Regions from separate parts of the Homo sapiens genome. Here region 1 is linked to region 2. Evidence: fine-mapped expression QTL. A gene starts in region 2. The other region holds a variant in brackets. All regions are shown on one strand. Distances are from middle to middle.

What was found. PIP is the estimated chance that this variant, and not a neighbour inherited with it, causes the effect.
Region 1: its variant is the best candidate, but not a certain one, in a credible set for the expression of SEC11A in monocytes after Pam3CSK4 (Quach 2016, PIP 0.87).

What each region holds. Positions count from the first base shown.
Region 1 is chr15:84,684,663-84,692,662 of GRCh38, forward strand. SEC11A (SEC11 homolog A, signal peptidase complex subunit) reads right to left here. Exons shown (of 6, transcript NM_014300.4): 2 at 6,873-6,982; 3 at 2,963-3,112. Among named protein-coding and RNA genes, the nearest start is that of SEC11A, 27 kb to the right of the region's middle. RefSeq lists an enhancer at 1,826-2,325. The variant CAA/C (reference allele first, on the strand shown) is at 4,367.
Region 2 is chr15:84,712,676-84,722,591 of GRCh38, forward strand. It overlaps SEC11A (SEC11 homolog A, signal peptidase complex subunit), which reads right to left and starts at 3,464. Exons shown (of 6, transcript NM_014300.4): 1 at 3,350-3,464. The coding sequence starts at 3,400. RefSeq lists enhancers at 3,117-3,682, 3,138-3,207, 3,683-4,248, 3,878-3,997, 4,018-4,127 and 1 more.

The DNA of each region.
Region 1 (8,000 bases), 29 kb before region 2:
GGGTCATGCCTGTAATCTCTGCACTTTGGGAGGCAGAGGTGGGTGAATCATTTGAGGTCCGGAGTTCAAGACCAGTCTGGCCAACATGGTGAAACCCTGCCTCTACTAAAAATACAAAAATTAGCTGGGCGTGGTGGCAGGCGCCTGTAGTCCCAGCTACTTGGGAGGCTGAGGCAGGAGAATTGCTTGAACCCAGAAGGCAGAGGTTGCAGTGAGCCAAACTCGCACCATGAACTCCAGCCTGGGCGAAAGAGCGAGACTCCGTCTCAAAAGAAAAAACAAAAAACAAAAAAAACCCAAATGGTAATCCTGACCAGATATTTCAGTCTCCCCAAAAGAAAAAAAGAAAATTGAAAATTTCTGAATATTAACAGGGTCTGTTATCTACACAGGCCTGCAAGTTGAAGGTATCTCAAGAGTCTGAAATAAATCACCAAAAACCCCAGATTACAAGTACCATATTTAAAATCATCAGAATTCTGTACAAAATTATTTTAAAAATTTAAGGATTTTCCAATTAATATATTCTCTGTCTATGAATCTGCCCAGAAGCAGTTTTAAACTTAAGTCTATGACTCATTCAATTTCTTTTTCTTTTCTTTTTTCTTTTTTTGAGATACAGTCTCACTCTGTTGCCCAGGATAGAATAAAGTGGCATGATCTCGGCTCACTGCAGCCTCAACCTCCTGGGCTCAAGTGATCCTCCTACCTCAGCCTCTTGAGCAGCTGGGACTACAAGTGCACACCACCGTGCCTGACTCATTTTTTTTTTTTTTTTTTATTTGTAGAGACAGGGTTTCACCATCTGGTCTAGACGCCCAGGCTGGTCTAGAGCTCCTGCGCTCAAGCACTCCACCCGCCTCAGCCTCCCAAAGGGCTGGGATTACAGGCATGAGTCACCACACCCAGCCAAACTCACTCAATTTCAAAGGATCACAAATTAAAATGGAGAAATTTTCCTCCAGCTTAAACAAGGCCTGAGCTTAATTTGATTCTCTCTGATATATTTAGGGGAAAGTTGGTTCAGCTTTGTTCACAACAGGCATTGCTGAGAATGAACAACACAAATCCACTTTCAGAATCTGGAAAACACTATCCATGCTGAATAAACCTCTGTAATTCCAAAATAAATTTCTTTTTTTTTTTTTTTTTTTTTTTGAGATGGAGTCTCACTCTGTCATTCAGGCTGGAATGCAGTGGCGTGATCTCAGCTCACTGCAACCTTAGCCTCCCAGGTTCAAGTGATTCTCCTGCCTTAGCCTCCTGAGTAGCTGGAGTTACAGGTGCCCACCACCACGCCTGGCTAATTTTTATACTTCTAGTAGAGATGGGTTTTGCCATGTTGGCAAGGCTGGTCTTGAACTCCTGAGCTCAGGTGATCTGCCCGCCTCAGCCTCCCAAAGTGCTGAGATTACAGGCATGAGCCACTGCTCCCGGCCCCAAACAATTTCTAAAAATTTAAGTTATTCCTTCCCAGTCAATAATATAATGTCACTTTAAATTATAGTATTTCCACATACATACTGATATCTGATTTTATTAAAAAAAAATAAGCAGTCATATCTTTATTTCACCAATGAAGAAAGAACTCTTCTAAACTAGAATGTTTATAGGAATTTCAAAAAGCAATGGTTGACAGTTTCCTCTTCTTTCAAGAACTGAAATCCACCAGGTGCAATGGCTCATGCCTGTAATCCCAGCACTTTGGGAGGCCAAGGCAGGCGGATCACTTGAGGCCAGGGGTTCGAGACTAGCCTAGCCAACAAGGTGAAACCCTGTCTCTACTAAAAATACAAAAATTAGCTGGGCATGGTGGCACATGCCTGTAATCCCAGCTACTCAGAAGGCTGAGGCATGAGAATCACTTGAGCCTGGGAGGTGGAGGTTGCAGTGAGCCGAGATAGCGCCACTGCATTCCAGCCTGGGTAACAGAGGGAAACTGTCTCAAAAAACAAACAAAAAAAGAACCGAAATCATGCCTACTCTTTCACTTCTCGTCTGTGTGTCATACAGGATGCCTCCCTTTTCTTTCATTTCTTTCTTTTTTCTTTTTTGAGACAGGGTCTCACTCGGTCGCCCAGGCTGGAGTGCAGTGGCACAAACACGACTCACTGCAGCCTCAAACTCCTGGGCTCACACAATCCTCCCACCTCAGTCCTCCAATTAGCTGGGACTACAGGCACATGCCACTACGCCCAGCTAATTATTTATTTATTTATTTATTTTTTGAGATGGAGTCTGGCTCTGTCGCCCAGGCTGGAGTGCAGTGCTGCAATCTTGGCTCACTGCAACCTCCACCTCCCAGGTTCATGCAATTCGCCTGCCTCAGCCTCCCAAGTAGCTGGGATTACAGGCGCCCACCACCACACCTGGCTAATTTTTATATTTTAGTAGAGACAGGGTTTCACGATGTTAGCCAGGCTGGTCTCGAACTCCTGACCTCAGGTGATCCACCCACCTCGGCCTCCCAAAGTGCTGGGATTACAGGCGTGAGCTACCATGCCTGGCCTTTTTTGGTTTTGTTTTGTTTTAATAGAGAAGGAGTCTCACCATGTTGCCCAGGCTGACCTCAAACTCCTGAGCTCAAGCCATTCTCTCACCTTGGCCTCCCAAAGTACTGGGATTGTAGGCGTGAGCCACTGTGCCCAACCAGAAGATTCTATTTAGGATCTATCTTTATGTCATAGTTTTTTGGAATTATATACAGAGTCACTGACAGGTTGGGAAGTAAAAGGGAACAAAGAAAAACCTCTGGAAAAACCTTCAGGGAAAGAAATGAACTAATAAATAATTATTTACAGTTTTCAAAATGTTCACTAAACTTTCCAGCATTCATAAAAATGGACTGGAAGAAGGCCTAGAGGTTCCTCACTGTTTTACAATCTTTAGGCTATCAAAACTAAATACCACAAACACTTAAACAAAAGCACTTAGAAACAAAGATGCTATACTTTGCACATACTTTTCATGAATCTTCAAGACTCGGTGAACTATAGGAATCTCTCTTCCTTCTATCCTAAAAACAACAATTTCTCCCACTCGTATGGGATCTTCAACTCGATTTGTTAGAAAGAGAAGATCTCCTCTATGAAATGCAGGTTCCATGCTGCCACTGGAAGGGAAAGAAGAATATAACAGCAAAAAGAAAGTATGAGATTAAATGTACTTTCAAAATTAGATATTCAACAAAATAAAAAATATCACTTTGGGAGTATACTCAATACCCTAACAACTATATCAACAGAAATGTGTATTGTTCTCAAAATATGGTTTCCTCAGACTAAAAAGTTACGCCAAAGGATTTTTTTTTAGTTATTAACCTTCACTAACTAGTTCCATTTCAAGTATCACTAGTCAAAGAAGCTTAAATCTTGAAAAGGTCAGTGTTACTAATTCCTTAACCTTTTAAAATTTCAAATGACAAACAGAATATAAAAGAATGAACTTTAAAACAATGCCCTTATTCTCACTTCATCTGAAAACACTAAACATATTCAGATATGCAAATGAGAACTGGATCATCTTCCTCTGCCATTTATAAAGATAACAGCCAAGATGACCTTATATGTTCAACTCATTTAGAAGGAAAAATGGCTCATCAAGTCAAGGAACAGCCAGCTACAGAGATAAAGCTTGTGTTATCAATTTACTTATTTTAAAAAGAGAAAAAAAGAAAACCAAGGAATAAGCAGAGATTTTTGCCTAAGAATTTCCGAAGCCAGGAAAAGATTCAATTCCATGGTAACAAGTAAGACTAACTTCTACAGAGTATCTTCTTACCTCTTACCTCTTCCATCCTACGCCAAGTGCTGAAAAGGTCCTAAGATATTTGCACTAATTTATGAACCCCTTTTTATCTATAAAGAAGTAGCCCATCAGTCTTTTTCAGAAACTCAAGCTCCGGTTTTCTATAACAACAGCTTAAGTAAGAATAGAAAGACAAGAAATAAAGTTCAACGCAGGAATAAGTACAAACTCCAAACACTTTTGTTTAAAGACTCTCTTCCCTCTATGTAAAGGGATATGGCAGTGGGTCTCAAATTTTGCTGCACATTGGAATGACCTGAGGGACTTTTAAAAAATCTCAGCCAGGTGCGGTGGCTCACACCTGTAATTCCAGCACTTCGGGAGGCCGAGGTGGGCAGGTGACCTGAGGTCAGGAGTTCGTGACCAGCCTGATCAACACAGTGAAACCCAGTCTCAACTAAAAATACAAAAATTAGGTGAGCATGGTGGCGCACGCCTGTAATCCCAGCTACTCAGGAGGCTGACGCAGAAGAATCACTTGAACCCAGGAGGTGGAGGTTGAATGGGCTGAGATTGCGCCATTGCACTCCAGCCTGGGCAATACAGTGAGACTCTGTCT[CAA/C]AAAAAAAAAAAAAAGAAGAAGAAGAAAAGAAAAAAAAGAAAAGAAAAGAAACTGGGGGCCAGGCACGATGGTTCAAGCCTATCATCCCAGCACTTGGGAGGTTGAGGGGGGAGGATCACTTGAGATCAGGAGTTCAAGACTCAGTCTCTGTAAAAAAAAAATTAGCCAAGTGTGATGGCACACTCCAGTCTGGGCGATGGAGGGAGGCCCTGTGTTAAATGTTCTTATCACAAAAAAATAGAAAGGGAAGAAACTTTTGAAAGTGATGAATATATTCACTTGCTTGATTGTGATGATGGTTTCACAGGAATATACTTACCTGCAAATTGATCAAGTTGTATACATTAAATATGTACAGCTTTTTGTATGTCAATCATATCTCGATAATTTGGTTAAAAAAGAGTAATCTAAGTACTATTACTTAGGTTCTAGATAATGTTAATGCACTATTATTTAGATTCTAGATAATATTAATAATTCCATTTATTTTAAATATGCACTCCATTATCTCCAGAAAAGATCTGGGCTTACAAAATTAAGCCCAAAATATGACAAAACTGTAATGTTTCTTTTCTTTCTTTTTTTTTTTTTTTTTGAGACAAAATTTCAATTGTCACCCAGGCTGGAGTGCAATGGAGCGATCTCCGCTCACTGCAATCTCCGCCTCCTAGGTTCAAGCAATTCTCCTGCCTCAGCCTCCTGAGTAGCTGGGACTACAGGCGCCTGCCACCACGCCCAGCTAATTTTTGTATTTTTAGTAGAGATGGGGTTTCAACATGCTGGCCAGGCTGGTCTCGAACTCCTAGCCTCAAGTGATCTGCCCGCCTTGGCCTTCCAAAGTGCTGGGATTACAGGTGTGAGCCACCACACCCAGCCTATAATGTTTCAGTCAAACAACCAAGTGGTAATTCTCTAAAAATGAGTTACTAAATTAGGTTTTAAAATCACTAAGAGTGGTTGCGCATGGTGGCTCATGCTTGTAATCCCAGCATGTTGGGAGGCCAAGGTGGGAGGATCCTTGAACCCAGGAGTTCAAGACCAGACTGGGCAACACAGTGAGATCCTATCTGCTACGGTTTGGCTGTGTCCCCACCCAAATCTCATCTTGAATTCCCACGTGTTTTGGGAGGGACCCAGCAGGAGGTAACTGAATCATGGGGCAGGTTTTTCCTGTGCTGTTCTAGTAACAGTGAATAAGTCTCACGAGATCTGATGGTTTTAAAAAGGGGAGTTCCCCTGCAAAAGCTCTCTTCTCTTGTCTGCCGCCATGTGAGACCTGCCTTTCACCTTCTGCCATGATTGTGGGGCCTCCCCAGTCACGTGGAACTGTAAGTCCAGTAAACCTCTTTCTTTCGTAAATTGCCCAGTCTTGGGTACGTCTTTATCAGCAGCATGAAAATGGACTAATACACCGTCTCTACAAAAAAATTAAAAAATTAACCAGGCATGGTGGGGCAGGCCTGCAGTCCCACCTGCTCAGGAGGCTAAAATGGAAGGATCCCTTGAGACCGGTAGGTGGAGTCTGCAGTGAGTTATGACGGCGCCACTGCACTCTATCCTGGGTAACAGAGCGAGACCCCATCTTTAAAAAAAATATTCACTAAGAGTATGAGTGCAAAGATAGGGAAGGAAGCAGAGTGGAGAAAAAAAATTCAGTACTATTTGTCACCATAAGAGATGGTATTAATGCCTTCAAAATTCCTGGAGTCTAGTTTAGAAGTGATATTTAAAGGTCAGCAGGAAACTTGGAAATAATTAGTGATGATTCTATCCTGACATTGAGAACATGCTACAGAAAAACTCTTAATTTGTGGAAGTACTATAACATCTAATGAACTAACAACTAAATATCAGGCCTGGTGTATCAAAATGAGGAATATAAAAAGACAGAAGAATTTCAGGAAAATAAAGTACAACGAGACACTTTATTAAGGGATGTGACAAAAACAAACCTTAACATGGTAACTTTTTTGTAGAAAGGTCATGAGCCCTTTGGAGTTCTGAATGGAAATGCCTAACAAAGTAAGAATTTCTTTTCTCTCTTTTTTTTTTTTTTTTTGGAGACAGGGTCTCGCTCTGTCACCCAGGCTGAAGTGCAGTGGTGCAATCACAACTCACTGCAGGCCTCAACCTCTAGGGCTTAGGTGATCCTCCCACCTCAGCCTCCCGAGTAGCTGAGACTACAGGTCCATGCCACCACACCCGCTAATTTTTGTATTTTTTGTGGAGACAGGGTTTCACCACGTTGCCCAAGCTAGTCTCAAATTCCATAGCTCAAGTAATCCACCGGCCTCAGCATCCCAAATTGGTGGGATTACAGGCATAAGCCACCGTGCCCAGCCTGAGAATTTCTTACAACTGATAAGTAGTGACTAATTTTCTTCCAGGCCCTTTTCTGGAAAAGAGTAGTTTCTAAGAGAATGATATGCCAGTTATTTCATATCTCAATTTTTCTCCCAAGTAATGCCATGCAATTCCATGCCTTGAAAGGAAAAACTGTTACCTGAGCACCACTACAATCGGACTTTCACTTCCAGTTATTACCATTAACCCCTTCCAGATCATTAGTGCCGATGAGACAATCATTCCAAAATTTAGGACTTGATAATAGAGCTGCAAGAACAAAACAGAAGAGATCAGATCCACCATTATCCCCACTTCGGAAAGCAACTGAAAGCAGTAACAATTTGAAAGTTTCAAGCAGTACTATTAGGACAACTACAGTTCTGAGACATTCTTTAATACATTATAATAATTATGCCATCAGCAGATCAAAACAGGCCCCCCTTCTTTCACCCAAAGCACCCTGCTCCATTTTGTTTGGTAAAACATCAGTTACATTTATATAACACCATATTATTTTAAGAACATTTCACACAAGTTATTTCATTTGGGCTCCATAATCATTCAGCTTAAATTTATCACTCATGCTACTTACCAGCCAAGAGTAATCTGTCTCTGCTTCTGAACTCCTCTATTACTTTTTCTTTTTCTTTTTTTTTTTTTTTTTGAGATGGAGCCTCGCTCTTGCTCAGTCACCCAGGCTGGAGTACAGTGGTGCCATCTCAGCTCACTGCAACCTCTGTCTCCTGGGTTCAAGAAATTCTCCTGCCTCAGCCTCCCGAGTCGCTGGGACTACAGGCATGCGTCATCACGCCCAGCTAATTTTTTTGAATTTTTAGTAGAAACTGGGTTTCACCATGTTGATCAGGCTGGTCTCGAACTCTTGACCTCAAATGATCTGCCCACCTCCACCTCCTAAAGGGCTGGGATTACAGGCGTGAGTCACCACACCCGGCCCTCTATTACTTTTCTACTATACTTATCCCTTGATAATCATGGGAATAGTTAATGACATTTAACTCTACCTTCTCATTTTACAGTTAAGGAAACTGTCTCGAAAAGAGGAGACTTCACCAAGTCCTAAGCTTATCAGTCACATAGTCAAGACTTGAAGGTCAGCCTTCTTACTAAATTTCCAGTACTCCAACAAACTCTAAAATTCTGTGACTTGAATAAACAGATAAAACACCAGACGGCATTTCAATTTCAAATAAAGAAAATTCAGAACACGTGGAAAAAGGCAAAAAATATTACAAAATCAGATAAGATAAATAATGTGAGCTAACTG
Region 2 (9,916 bases):
GAGCTCAGGCAATCCACCTGCTCGGCCTCCCAAAGTGCTGGATTACAGGCATGAGCCACTGCGTCCAGCCTAAAAACTGATTAAAACTCCAAAGAATACATACTCTATGATTCCATTTATATAAAATGCATACCCCTCTATACTGACAAAAAGCACATTAGAGGTGGGACAGAACGGGTCTTGTAGGTGATATATACGTTCTATATCTTGATTGTGATCAGTATACGTAAGTATAAAAACTTATCGGCCGGCCGGGAGCAGTGGCTCACGCCTGTAATCCTAGCATTTTGGAAGGCCGAGGCAGGCGGATCACAAGGTCAGGAGATCAAGACCATGGTGAAACCCTGTCTCTACTAAAAATACAAAAAATTAGCCGGGTGTGGTGGCGGGTGCCTGTAGTCCCAGCTACTTGGGAGGCTGAGGCAGGAGAATGGCGTGAACCTGGGAGGTGGAGCTTGCAGTGAGTCAAGATTGCACTACTGCACTCCAGCCTGGGCAACAGAGTGAGACTCCGTCTCAAAAAAAAAAAAAAAACACTTATCAAATGGTACACTTTAAATGGATGGAGTTCATTTACTAAAGTATTCCTCTGTGGATCTGATAAGAAAAAAAAAACAAAAACTCAAAGCAATCAGACATTTAACATATATGTAATATGTAATTAGGTATAAGCAGAGAAGTTATGCAAATAATAGCAACTTTTAGAGGAATAAAACAAAATTCTAGTTTCCCTCTTTCGTCTGATTCTCAGTATCTACATGTATTGTCAATTCTTCCTCCTAGATATTATGTACAGATAAAGATCTCATTTCATAACTCTCCCTCACCCCATGTTATCCAATCCCTCCTATCCATTCCTAACAACCTCTGGGAGGCCAGGGAGGATAATTTTACCATTTAAACTTCCACTAACCCTGAATGTCCTAGATGCAATGAATTCTGAACCACAATCACTCCATATTAGAGAAACACAGGGCAGAGTAGCCTATTCATTGTATCTTCATGTTTCTGTTCTTTCTTCCTGTCCATTTTATTAGAGCAGGAAGAGTACCTTATATATCTCTATGCTTTAGAGCCTATCTAGCAGGTTTGCAAGTGCTGAGTGAATTCCTTCCCTTTTGATTATTGGAATGCTAACCAACCCAGGTTAAAGATGAAGCTATTAAGGTCTTTCAAGATCCAACTTAAATGCTAGTTTCTCCTTGAAGCTGTTCGTAATGCCCTGACTGGAACCTCTCAAAATTTTCCTACCACTGCTAGAACAGGTCATATCCTTCTTTATCCAAGTGTTCAGGCTTTAAAGTAAGACCTGAGATCAAATCCACATCCTGCCATATACCTTCTTTTTTTTTTTTTTTTTTTTTTGAGACGGAGTCTCACTCTGTCACCAGGCTGGAGTGCGGTGGCACGATCTCAGCTCACTGCAATCTCCACCTCCCAGGCGATTCCCCTGCCTCAGCCTCCTGAGTAGCTGGAACTACAGGCGTGCGCCAACAGGCCCAGCTAGTATCTGTATTTTTAGTAGAGAGGGGGTTTCACCATGTTGGCCAGGATGGTCTCAATCTCTTGACATTGTGATCCGCCTGCCTCAGCCTCCCAAAGTGCTGGGATTACAGGCGTGAGCCACCGCACCCAGTCTACCTTCTGTCTTAAGCAAATCACTAAAGCTCTCTAACAATGACATCGACCACAGTACAGCCAATACTCACCATGTGCCAGACACTCTTCTGAGGGCTTTATATGAATTAACTCATTTAATCTTCATAGCGACCCTACGTTTGCACAACATAGTGAATGCAACTAATGTCAGTGAAGTATACACGTAAAAACGGTTGAAATGGAATATTTTATGTTGCATATCTTTTTACAACAATAAAAGTAAACATAGGCACAGACAGGTTAAGTAATCTGCTCAAAGTCACACAGCCAGTAAGTAGCAGAGCTACTTCAAACCTCTGAAATCTAGCTTTAGAGTCCATATTCTTAACTTCTATACTGTATTGCTTCTCACAAAGTCTCATTTTCTTCATGTTTAATAAGAACAACGTTACCTACCTTACAGGTGTATAAAGTGCTTCACACATGGCAAGAGCTCAAAAAAGTTATTGTTTTGCCTTAGTCCTTTTCTACACATTTAGGCTCCTTGAAGGCCGAGTCTTTCTTAACTATCTTTGCATTTCTCTCATTGTACCTAGCATAGAGTACAATAAATATCAGACTCAAAATAAATACTTTCCTCAGAGAAATATCTGTGGCATCTAGAAATCCAAATATGGATTAAAAAAAGACAACACTATACAAGTAAAAATTTGAAGTGTTGTCATAAAGACATAAAGTAACGTTTGCGCAATTTTTATAGAATGCTCAATTCTGACTGACAGAATTGACACTGAGCTAGCTAAGGCCTGAAGGGGAGTAAGGAAAGGTTGTGTATCTACTTCCCTAAGTGGCAGTTATAAGTACAAAAAATGCAAGTCCAAGGAAAAAAAATCCTTAATGGTGACATCAGGATAATCATAACAGTAAAATACTGTTTAAAACAAAAAAAAAGTCCGATGCAGCAAAACTAGGCTCTACAGACACACTAGGCGCAAAAGATAAAACAGAACAACCTTTTCTAAGGACTAAATAATTACAACAATATTCTCAGTACTATTTGGCATACGATCTAGAAGATCAAAGTAAAGTGTAAGGACAAAATCAGGAGACCTACATTTCCAGATCCCCGTGGCACTGATATTGGACTGTAAAACCATAGATTCCGAGGGCTGCCGCCTTAGTGCTAAGCGGACGCAAGGGCAAGTAGTGTAACTGTTCCAACTCGGAGCCCAGAGTGGTCCAAGTCAAAGTCGGTGCAGCCCGCTACGGTTCAGCTCTACTAAAGGGTTGCAAGGAGCTGAAAGCAGCAAAACGGTTTTTGTGGGGCCTCCAATCGCCTTCCTGAGCGCCCCAGAAACCGGCTAAACCTCGTCTCTCCCGAAACCACCTGGAGTCGCTCCGACTGGAGAAATCAAGAGTCCGCCGCCTTAAAATGACTAAAACAATAAGCAACCCCAACTCCCACTTCAAGCGCGTACGGTTTCCATTTGCTCCCCTGCCTCAGTGGGAGGAATGGAACGTGAAGACACCGCTTCCCGCCCCGCCCCCGGTAGGCCCTGAATCAGTTCGGGGTTAAAAATAATGAGGCGGACAAGGCGGCCTCTGGCCACAGTCTCCAAAGAAAGCGAATGACCCGGGTATCAGACCAGCTCAGACCCTCACACCAGAACCCTGGGGTCCGCCGGGCCCCGCAGCAGCAGCCTCGAAGGGACAAGAAGAGCCAGGAGAAAAAGAGGACGGACAAGCTCACCTGCCGCTTGTTCATCCGCCGCACATCGTCCAAAAAGTCTAGAGACAGCATGGCGGGGACGGCGAGCAGGACACCGGCAGGGGAAAGGGCGCGATGACCAGCGGGCGGAACTACTGGAGCTCGGGTCGGGCTCACACTGGACAGGACCCCGCAGTGCTTGCACTTCCGCTTCCGGGGCGGGAGCTGGCACGGTCGGGCACGGTCCCCGCCCCCCGCGCCCCTTCGCTGCGGAGAGCTGACAGAGAGACTCACGACCTTGCTAGTCCAGTCTCAGGGCTTGGCCTCGCCGTGGGAGGGTTCTCACGCTCTGGCTCTCGCCTGCCAAAAACCGACTGGACGCCACTTCCCGCGCTCGGCCCCGCGGCCCTTCACCGAGGCGGCGACCCAGGCTTAGTTGGGGAGGCTGCTCTGCCACCTTCGGAAGGCGGGCCTCTGTGCCCGCCCGGCCAATCGCGAGCAACCTCTCCGGTGTGGGCGGGTAGAAGCGGTTCCGCGTCCCGGCTTGGGTATGGGTGTGGCAGTGGATGTGTCGTCTGACCGTAGGTTCTCTGGTCGAGCAAGTCTCCTGCGCTATGGGAAGCTGAGGAGGTGCTTTCTTTCTTTCTGTCTCTGTCTCTCTTTCTTTACGTCTCTGTCTCTGTTGAGGTGCTTGCTTGCTTGCTTGCTTACTTTCTGTCTGTCTGTCTCTTTCTCTTTTTCTTTCTCTTTCTCTCTTTCCTTTCTTTCTCACTGTGTCGCCCAGGCTGGAGTGCAGTGGCGCAATCTCAGCTCACTGCAACCTCCGCCTCGCGGGTTCAGGCGATTCTCCTGCCTCAGGCTCCCAAGTAGCTGGGACTACAGGCGCGCGCCACCAAACCTGGCTAATTTTTGTATTTTTAGTAGAGACAGGGTTTCACTATGTTGGCCAGGCTGGTCTCGAACTCTTGAGCTCAGGTGATCCGCCCGCCTTGGCGTCCCAAAGTGCTGGGATTACAGTCGTGAGCCACCGCGCCCGGCCATCGAGGTGCTTTCAATAAGTGCTTTTCGCGTAAGGTTGGACCGTGTGAGAGACCTTCCGAGCACTGCCTGAGCCTGCCAGGAGTTTACAGTCCAATTGGAGAGAAAACAGCCCGGGAGAATTAGAAAACATCCAAATGGTGCAACAGCGTGATGAGACCACCAGTGGTGTGGGTCGTTAGGAAGTGGCTTCCTTTCTGACCTTGACTTTGCTGACAGGATTTGACATGGTCTCCTTGAATTCTACCTCCTGGTTTTCTTAACTTGGACACCTTGAAGTGACTATCTTTTCGCTACCTTTTGCTTTGACTGGCCAAAGCTCCTAATACGCACTTCAGTCAACAAAGACTAAAGCTGGATTACTTGGTATCATTTCTCTCTCTTTTTTTTTTTTTTTTTTTTTTTTCAAAATAATCCTTCTCTCCCATTAGGGAAAGATGAATGAAGGATATACTGGAACTCTTTGTAGTATCCTCGAAATTCTTTAAATGGAAAGTCATTCCAAAATAAAAACTTGAATTTATTGGAGGATGGCTGTAATAAAAAAGACAAATAATAATAAGTTTAGGGGAAGATGTGAAGAAATTGGAACCCTCATATACTGCTGGTGGGAATGTAAAATGGTGCAGCCACTTTGGGAAATAGCTGCAGTTGCTCAAAAGGTTAAAGATGTGCCGTCTGCAGTGGCTCATGCCTGTAATCCCAGCACTTTGGGAGGCTGAGGCAGGCAGATCACCTGAGGTCAGGAGTTCCAGACTAGCCTGGCCAACATGGTGAAAACCCGTCTTTACTAAAGATACAAAAATTAGGCGGGTGTGGTGGTGGGCACCTGTAATCTCAGCTACTGGGGAGGCTGAGGCAGGAGAATCGCTTGAACCCAGGAGGCAGAGTTTGCGGTGAGCCGAGATCGTGCCACTGCACTCCAACCTGGGCGACAAAGTGAGACCCTATCTCAAAACACACAAACAAAAAAAGGTTAAAGATGGAATCACCATATTAACCAGCAATTCCACTGCTAGGTATATACCCAAGAAAATTGAAAACGTTTGTCCACACAAAAACTTGTACATGAATGTTCACAGCAGCATTATTCATAATAGCTAAAAAGTGGAAATAACTGAAATGTTTATCAACTAATGAAGGGATAAATAAATGTGGTATATTGGAATAATGTACTAATAATTCCGCTGGTACAATGGAATATTAATCTGGCAACAAAAGGAAATACTACAACATGAATGACCCTTGAAACAGATTTAGTGAAAGGATCCAGTCACAAAAGACAAAGCATTGCATGATTCCATTTAGGTGAAATATCTAGAATAGACAAATCCACAGAGATGGAAATCAGTGGTTGCCTAGGGCTGGGAGAGTTGGGGAAAATGGGGAGTGGCTGCTAATGGGTATGGAGTTTCTTTTAGGGGATGCTAGTTCTACAACTATGTGAATATACTCAAAACCATTAAATTGTACACTTTACACTGGTGAATTGTATGGTATGTGTATTATATCACAATAAAGCTATTATGAGAAAGAAAAAGAAACCACTGGTGTCTGGCTCACTGTTAAATTCCTAGTGGTGAACACATAGCCTAGCACATGTTATACCCAATAAATACTTGTTGAATTTAAAAGTGTGTGTGTGTGTGTGTGTGTATTTTTGTCACCTCCAAAAACTGCTGCCTCTAGGCACCCCACACTTATTGAGTTGAAAAAAAATTCCTAATTTATCCAATTTAGGAAGACTTGTGGAAGAAAATACATGTGAACTCCATGAGGACAGGGACATTGTCTTGTCCACCCCTTTATCTCCAGCTTCCATAAGAGTACCAGACATGTAGCAGACACTCAATAAGTATTTGTTAATAAATGTTAAATATGGGTTCTAGTCTAAATTCTCGCTAGTAGAACCCTTGGCCTATGCCTATTAATGTTGAATTCAAATCTAAAAGTGAGCGCCAGCAACTATTTAAATGAGTATCAATCTTGTAATGTGTAGAAAAGAGCCCTAAGAGAGGCGTAAAGTCCTGTGGAGTTTCAGATGTGGCAAAAGTCAGTTCAGTTGGGGAGGCTTGTGGGGAGCTTAAAAAGGGTGTCAGGCCAGGCACGGTGGCTCACGCCTGTAATCCCAGCACTTTGAGAAGCCAAGGGGGAAAGATCCCTTTGGCCCAGGAGTTCAAGACCAGCCTGGACAACAAAGTGAGACCTCTGCTCTACTAAAACTAAAAATTAGGCCAGGCACGGTGGCTCATGTCTGTAATCCCAGCACTTTGGGAGGCCGAGGCAGATGGATCACCTGAGGTCGAGTTTGAGACCAGCCTGGCCAACATGGTGAAACCCCGTCTCTACTAAAAATACAAAACTTAGCCAGGCATGGTGGCAGGTGCCTGTAGTCCCAGCTACTCGGAGGCTGAGGCAGGAAAATCGCTTGATCCCGGGGGGCAGAGGTTGCAGTGAGCCAAGATCACACCATTGCATTCCAGCCTGAGCAATGGAGTGAGACTCTGTCTTAAAAAAAAAAAGAATGCATGAGAAAGGAACGGGACCAGGGGAGAGTGATATAAACTAGGAGGATCTGCAAAGGCTTAATGAGGTTTCTTATACTGCTCGGTGTCTCTTATGAAAATAATTCAGATATTTAGGACAGGTGATCCCAGACTTGATATAAAGCCTAAGGAATTCAATTTTCCAAATGTGGGACTCTGACATGCTATTTTCTCTGCCGACTGGGATGGCAATCTTTCTGACACATAAGTCTTTTGGGCCCTGTCAATCACAGTGTTATGTCTGGCATTTTCCTTTACAGAGAGCCTGCTGGCCCCCCTGAAGGAAGCATCTTAGTATAGAAGTTAAGTTAGACCCACTTGGCTTTGAATCACAGATCAATTGCCAGCTGTTTGATCTTGGACCAATTAGTTAACTCTTTTTCCAAAAAAATTTATTTAATTTAATGTTTCTACAGACAGAGTCTCACTCTGTCACCCAGGCTGGAGTGCAGTGATGTGATCACCCTTCACTGAAGCCTAGACCACTGAAGCCTAGATTGCTCAAGCAATCCTCCCACTCAGCCTCCCAAGTAGCTGGGACTGCAGGCGCATGCCACCATGCCCAACTCAGTTAGCAATTTTTTAATCCCTAGTTTTCTGGTGTGTAAAGTAGGAATAGAAAAGAATTTATGTCATTTGAGGATTTAACAAAATAGTACATGTAAATAAGGCTGTTGGGGGCTGGGCATGGTGGCTGACGCCTGTAATCCCAATACTTTGAGAGGCCAAGGTGGGCAGATTACTCGAGCCCAGGAGTTCGAGACCAACCTGGGCAACATAGTGGAAGCCTCATCTCTACAGAAAATTTTAAAAATTAGCCAGGTGTGGGGACACATGCCTGTAGTTCCAGCTACTCGGGAGGCTGAGTCAGGAGGATCGATTGAGTCCTGAAAGTTGATCCCTTAGTGAGCCATAATTGTGCTACTGCACTCCAGTCTTGGCGACAAAGAGAGACTCTATCTCAAAAAATAAATAAAATAAATAAATAAATAAATAAAGCTGTTGTCACAATGGATGACAAATGGTAAGTGGACAAAGAATTTAATAATTATTCAAAACAAGAAGTGGGTTCAAACTGATACACAAATTCTAGGCTAGGAAGGTCTGTCATTATGGTTGAGCCCTGGTTAACCACTTCTGTACAAATCAAGGGTCTCTACCAGCAGAAGCAAAGTAGACGTCATGTGGGTTTTTTTGTTGTTGTTATTGTTGCCCAGGCTGGAGTGGAGTGCAATGGTGTAATCTCGGCTCACCGCAACTTCTGCCTCCTGGGCTCAAGTGATTCTCCTGCCTCAGCCTCCCAAGTAGCTGGAATTACAGGCATGCGCAACCACGCCTGGCTATTTATTTATTTATTTATTTATTTTTTATTTTTAGTAGAGACAGGGTTTCGGCATGTTAGTCAGGCTGGTCTCGAACTCCCAACATCAGGTGATCTGCCCCCCTCGGCCTCCCAAAGTGCTGGAATTACAAGCATGAGCCACCGCACCCGGCCTGACTTCATGTTTTTAAAACTCTATTAAAAATAATTATAATCTTACCAGTTTCTCCTTCACCTTCTCAATGTAGGAAGTGGTGGGTAGAAGCAGAAGGTCCTCTATGACCCTGCCAGAAAAGGAAGTGGCCCAGGCATATCACAGCAAGCTGGTGCATAGGCCACACTGGAGATGTGGCTCTTCCCTGGTGCCATCTCCCACAAGGATCTATCTCAGTTTGCTGGGGGCTGCCTGAGGTCAGGTCAGGTGGATGCAGAGATGGGAACTTTCTGCCTACCAACCCAGTGGCTATGGACATCAGAGACCAAGGTTTTAAAAGATGTAGCAGCTCTGTATAGGATGGGATGACAGAAATGTCATTCTCAAAAATCAAAGGCACCTTCTGTGCAGAGAGATTACTGGAGTCACCCAAGTCTCCCTGGAAGATTTTTGGAAAGCTCTCTTTAAAAAGTCCCAGACAGCTGCAGGGACAGCTGTAAGAGGGAAGCACCAGCCTTCTGGGTTGGTATGTGCGTATATGTGATGGGGGTTGGGGAGGACCCATCAATTTCCTGCTTGGCTATACTGCTTTAGCTGAAGAAGAAAGGGGCCTTGATGTTTGTTTTGTGAGTCCTTAGAGAGGAGAGATCCCTGTTGTGAATGTGGATGTCGTGTGGGTAGAGGATCAAGAGTGGGGACACCCTTAGCCTCTTCCCTCTAACTGGGCCTGCACCTCCTCCCTCTTGGAAAAGTTGCCTTTTGAGCTCTTGGATCTCATAGTTAATGACAGGGAATTGGCTCTTGATATCCCTCTTGATAGGTTAAGGGATCCTATAGGAATCTGTTGAGGCAGTTAATCACCACTGGAAATGTGGCTTGTGTAAATCTGGATATGGATATCCAGAATACAATCACATTCATTAGCAATCATTTATATATACATTCAAGTACTTTAAAATATTTACCTAAAGTCTCCTAAGAGCCTCTCTTCAAGGTACTCACGCTGAATCTGTGTGATTTGGCTACTGCCTCCTCTCCTTTTCTTTTAGTCACCCAGGCTGGAGGGCAGTGGCATGATCTCAGCTCACTGCAACCTCCCCCTCCCAGGTTCAAGCGATTCTTGTGCCTCAGCCTCCCGAGTGGCTGGGATTACAGATGTGCACCACCATACCTAGCTAATTTTTGTATTTTTAGTAGAGATAGGGTTTCACCATGTTGGTAAGGCTGGTCTCAAACCCCTGACCTCAGGTGATCCACCTGTCTTGGCCTCTCAGAGTGCTGGGGATTACAGGCGTGAGCCACTGCTCCCAGCAGGCTACTGCCTCTTTCATCAACTTGATATCTGACGTTCCTTGCCAACTTGTTACCCTATAGTCCAGACATACTCAACCATCTATACTCCAGCATATGTCATAGGAATTAAAGAAGTGATCTCTGGAGCCAAACTGCTCTAACCCTTACTGTGTGACTCTAGATGAGTTACTTTACCTCTATATGCCTCCATTTCTTCATCTGTAAACAGATATTTTAGCACCCAGGGTTTTTTAAAT